Linked DNA regions of Homo sapiens: region 2 is linked to region 1. A link means that fine-mapping ties the variant in region 1 to the expression of a gene that starts in the linked region. Tissue or cell type: whole blood. Region 1 holds a variant in brackets; the other region holds the start of a gene. All regions are shown on one strand. Distances are from middle to middle.

Region 1 (2,685 bases):
GATGAAATTTTTCCACCTCAGATCATCAGGCATTAGTTAGATTCTCATAAGGTGCATGCAACCTAGATCCCTCGTATGCGCAGTTCACAGTAGAGTTCATGCTCCTTGAGAATCTAATACCGCTGCTGATCTGACAGGAGGTGGAGCTCAGGCAATAATACTCACTCGCCCGCGGCTCAACTCCTGCTGTGCGGCCTGGTTCCTAACAGGCAGCAGACCAGTACTGTCCACAGCCCAGGGGTTGTGGACCCCTACCCCAACAGACAGCAAAAATAAAATGCTCAACCCTATTGTAGTTTGTTTACCTTGTAAAATCATTTCCAAAATATAAGAATGTAATTAGAGAAACATCGTAGAATCTTAGTGCTGAAAAGTGCAAGGACATAAGAATGAGTGGCAGTTGGTAGTTAAATTGACTGTATCATCATACTGTGGAGAAATGCACATTTTACTGTCAAAATACATAAAAGCCTTTGCAGAGATAGGTTTTGACACGCTTGCAGCTGTTTATAGTCTTACTCTCTGTCATCTTCTATCTTACTAATTGCAAAAATTTCCAAGGAACTGTTTATCTGGTTAGTATTCCCCTAGTTACACTTGTTCTTTATAATGATCATAGTTCAGGCAGAGTATTTGGGTATATCACCTTCAGTCATGTCTCAAACGCAGGAAATGAAGAATATTGTTTCACCAACACTCAGAAGTAAAGAGAAAGCAAGAGAAAAGTGCTTTCGGCTCTTGTTTAATCCAAGAGGCCGTGAAAAATCACAACCCAGGAGCTGTGATTTGTTTTCACGAGGCAAAGAGCAATGATGTCGATCGGTTTCAGCGGTACAATTTGAAGTAACACATAAAGTGAACTTGAGCCCTTAAGGATAAAGAAGGGATAACTGCCTCAAAAACTGTTGCTTTAGAAACCTAAGCCAGTATACAATTAATTGCCTCTTATTCCAGTTGCAAACACAAAGGAAAGTAGGGATTTGTCCCCCAAAAGGCCAATTAAGTATAGCAATGTAATAAAAGCACAAAGTGCTATAGAAAAGATGTCAGAAAAGCTTGCAGGACACCGCTGCTAGCCCCATACCCCGAGCCAACCAAACCCCAAAGACACCCCATACAGTTTATGTAGCTTACTTCCCCAAAGCAATACACTGAAAATGTTTCGACGGGCTCATATCACCCCATAAACAAATAGGTTTGGTCCTAGCCTTTCTATTAGCTCTTAGTAGGATTACACATGCAAGCATCCCCGCCCCAGTGAGTCACCCTCTAAATCACCACGATCAAAAGGAACAGGTATCAAGCACGCAGCAACGCAGCTCAAAACGCTTAGCCTAGCCACACCTCCACGGGAGACAGCAGTGATAAACCTTTAGCAATAAACCAAAGTTTAA[CTAAG/G]CCATACTAACCCCAGGGTTGGTCAATTTCGTGCCAGCCACCGCGGTCACACGATTAACCCAAGTCAATAGAAACCGGCATAAAGAGTGTTTTAGATCAATTCCCCTCAATAAAGCTAAAATTCATGTGAGTTGTAAAAAACTCCAGTTGATACAAAATAAACTACGAAAGTGGCTTTAATGCATCTGAACACAGAATAACTAAGACCCAAACTGGGATTAGATACCCCACTATGCTTAGCCCTAAACTTCAACAGTTAAATTAACAAAACTGCTCGCCAGAACACTACGAGCCACAGCTTAAAACTCAAAGGACCTGGCGGTGCTTCATATCCCTCTAGAGGAGCCTGTTCTGTAATCGATAAACCCCGATCAACCTCACCACCTCTTGCTCAGCCTATATACCGCCACCTTCAGCAAACCCTGACGAAGGCCGCAAAGTAAGCGCAAGTACCCACGTAAAGACGTTAGGTCAAGGTGTAGCCCATGAGGTGGCAAGAAATGGGCTACATTTTCTACTTCAGAAAACTACGATAACCCTGATGAAATTTAAGGGTCGAAGGTGGATTTAGCAGTAAACTAAGAGTAGAGTGCTTAGTTGAACAGGGCCCTGAAGCGCGTACACACCGCCCGTCACCCTCCTCAAGTATACTTCAAAGGACACTTAACTAAAACCCCTACGCATTTATATAGAGGAGATAAGTCGTAACATGGTAAGTGTACTGGAAAGTGCACTTGGACGAACCAGAGTGTAGCTTAACACAAAGCACCCAACTTACACTTAGGAGATTTCAACTCAACTTGACCGCTCTGAGCCAAACCTAGCCCCAAACCCATTCCACCTTACTACCGAACAGCTTTAACCAAATCATTTACCCAAATAAAGTATAGGCGATAGAAATTGTAAATCGGCGCAATAGATATAGTACCGCAAGGGAAAGATGAAAAATTGCAACCAAGCATAATACAGCAAGGACTAATCCCTGTACCTTCTGCATAATGAATTAACTAGAAATAACTTTGCAAAGAGAACCAAAGCTAAGACCCCCGAAACCAGACGAGCTACCTAAGAACAGCTAAAAGAGCACACCCGTCTATGTAGCAAAATAGTGGGAAGATTCGTAGGTAGAGGCGACAAACCTACCGAGTCTGGTGATAGCTGGTTGTCCAAGACAGAATCTTAGTTCAACTTTAAATTTACCCACAGAACCCTCCAAATCCCCCTGTAAATTTAACTGTTAGTCCAAAGAGGAACAGCTCTTTGGACACTAGGAAAAAACCTTGTAAA
Region 2 (2,685 bases), 180 kb before region 1:
CATAGAATTAGAATTTCTGAAAGAGGAACCCAAGGAGCTTCACACTTGGGGGTTCTAATGCACATTGAAGTTGGAGAAACAGCACTGAAGAGTTTGGTCAGTTCCTTCTAGACCATATACTTGCAATTCTAGTAGTTACCACCATGTGGCTTTGTGGGGGACGGGGGTTGTGGGGGGAGCCTGTACCTCCATGTGGACAGGTGTGGACACTTGAGAGAAAGCATGGCTAGTACCCAAGACAGCCTCCTCTGGTTTCATTTACAAAAAACAATTATTGATGAGGGTAGCGGACTTCATGCGCTGCACCCCTGTTAGTGATCTCTCTTACAACAACCACACAGAAGAGACAGGACTTCCTGAGAACCACATGCCTGAGGAAGGTGCTGGGATGGAGGCTCAGTGGGCCAGGCTCAGTGGAGAGCATCTGCCACTGCTGCACAACTGATCTGTGGCCAGGAGCTGAGCATAAGGACTGTGTTTGCCAGGAGAGCTTGAGGCCATAGGCCTGGGAGCTCCAATCCCTAGTGCTCTCTACCATGACTACTGAATGTTTTCTGGGTGGCTAATGATGGCCAAAAGCTAGGGTTCCCGGATTTATCAAACAAAAATAGAGGATGACTAATTAAATTTGAATTTCAGATAAATAACAGTCTTTAATACAAGTATGTCCTGTGTTTATCTGAAATCCAAATTTAAATGGGTGTCCTGTAATTTATCTAGCAACTTTACCTAGGGTTTCTCTGTGCTGCTCTAACCACAGAAGGGGCTGAAGTCCCCATGTGGCTTGCCCCCAGCTTGGAGCTCCATGATCCTGGCCTTGGGTAGGCCCTATACCCAAGGCAGGTGAAGAGTGTGTATGGACAGGGTATGGATTTCCTGGGCAGGGGCAGGAAGCTCATTCATACTGATCTAGCTCTTATGAGATGCTGGCAGTGTGTTAAACACTTGACTAACATCTCATTTAATCCCCTGACTACCTAGTGAGTCGGGCATTATCATTATTATTTCCACTTTAGAGATGAGGAGACTGAGGCTCCACGATGTTAAGACCACAGGCTGTTTAATGGAGGAGCAAGGTTGACATCCCTGGGGCTGGTGCCAAGTCTGGGAGTAGCTGAATCTCCCAGGCCATTCTCTCTGGCAATCCCAAGAGTTTAACGCAGTGGGAGCAGCCCCTGCCCCCGAATCCCCAGGACAGGAACCATTCCCAGTTTCTCTTGGCGCTGGCCCAGGGTCTTCTCCAGGCTCACATGCTTGCTGGAGGCTCCAGGCGGGTGGGGAGATCTGCAGGGTCCCTTTGTTCCCGTCCGGCCAGGACAGTGTCCAGTGGCACGAGTTGCCATGGGGACTGCCATCTGCTGTGTGGATACCCATCGGAGGGGCCCAGGGTGAGCGACTGCCCCAAAGGCCCAGCCTGCCCTGAGCCCTGAGGCCAGCTGGTCGGCTTTCCCTGCCATTATCCCCCGAGCCAGGCCGGAGTGGGGCTCCCAGAGGAGCTCTCGGCTCTAAGTCCCAGCCCCTCTCAGAGGAGGCGTGCGGCCGAGGTTCTGCAGCCAGAGGCTTCTCGGCTCTGAGCTCCGGAGCCAGATGTAACATTGACCTTAAATGGTAAAAGCTCCCCAGAGTGAAGAGAGGCTGGCCAGAGGAGGAAAGGAGAATAACTCAGTTTTAGGTAAGCCTCCCCTATATCCTAGAATAACCTGCCTCTTCGGCTGGGAAGCGGAGGGAACCTTCTCTTCCTTAAAGGTACAGGGTGCTGGGATGGGGGTGCTAAACTTTAACTTTCCAGGGGAGCTGGCTTTGTTGGGTGGCATTTCAGCTGAGTATCTTTATTGTTGCTGTCTTAAGTTTTAAATCAGAAGTGAATCTTGCCAGTCCTAACTTAACTAGATTGTGCTCCTTTTGCTTGCCGTTGGAAAGTGTGCACAGCTCAGGGTGAAAATGTGGGTCCTGACAGGCGATTGCAACCCCTAGCTTTCCTGTGGGCCCCTTTGTGGCAACAGTGGGGTCTTCAGCTTTGGCAAGTCTGCTAAGCAGAGCTTTCTCCCCTCTGTGCTTCCTGTGTCTCTCTCTCTGTCCCCCTACGCCCCTCTGCCTTGAACCTGGGCTGGCATGACCTGTCTAGATCCTTAAGCCTGCCTCTATTTCTGTCTCTGCCCTTCCCATCCTGTGTTCTTGTCACAGTCCCTGTTTTTATCTCTGTCCCTGTCTCCTCTTTTGTCTCCAGCTTCCCCTGGCCTGTGCCCTTCCCTGCTCCCTAGAGGGGGTGTATGTGCCCGGCCCGTGCCCGGCCCTGCTCACCTCCAGGGCTCCGAGTTGAAGCGATTCCTAGAGTGAGCACCATTTGAACTGGCTTTTTCCAAAGGAAAAGCCAGTGGAAGCCAGAGGCCAGAGAGAGGCCCAGCTGTCTTGCTCCCTCCTGCCCAGGAAACAGTTGTAAAGGCTATAGAGGCTCTGCAGTTTGAGTAAACAGCAGCCCGGGGTCTGGGACCCCTGGCCAGCACTCCAGCCTCCCAGAGCTCGGCAGCTGCTGAACACTCTTCAGGCTGCTCACTGGGGTGGCACAGGGAAGTAAATCTGGTCTGAGCAGAGTCTTTTGCAGGGAAAAGGAGGAAGCTTCCTGGGACTGTGAGGCTGGGGGTCCAAAGGAGTCAGGACCTGCCAAGGATTGTATTGCCCCCACCG

The links. PIP is the estimated chance that this variant, and not a neighbour inherited with it, causes the effect.
Region 2: IRAG1 starts here. The variant in region 1 is fine-mapped to the expression of IRAG1 in whole blood (TOPMed, PIP above 0.99).

What each region holds. Positions count from the first base shown.
Region 1 is chr11:10,508,715-10,511,399 of GRCh38, reverse strand. It overlaps the pseudogene MTRNR2L8. Among named protein-coding and RNA genes, the nearest start is that of MIR4485, 1.7 kb to the right of the region's middle. RefSeq lists an enhancer at 1-421 and a silencer at 1,984-2,278. The variant CTAAG/G (reference allele first, on the strand shown) is at 1,395.
Region 2 is chr11:10,692,523-10,695,207 of GRCh38, reverse strand. IRAG1 (inositol 1,4,5-triphosphate receptor associated 1) reads left to right here and starts at 1,453. Exons shown (of 21, transcript NM_130385.4): 1 at 1,453-1,672. The coding sequence starts at 1,606.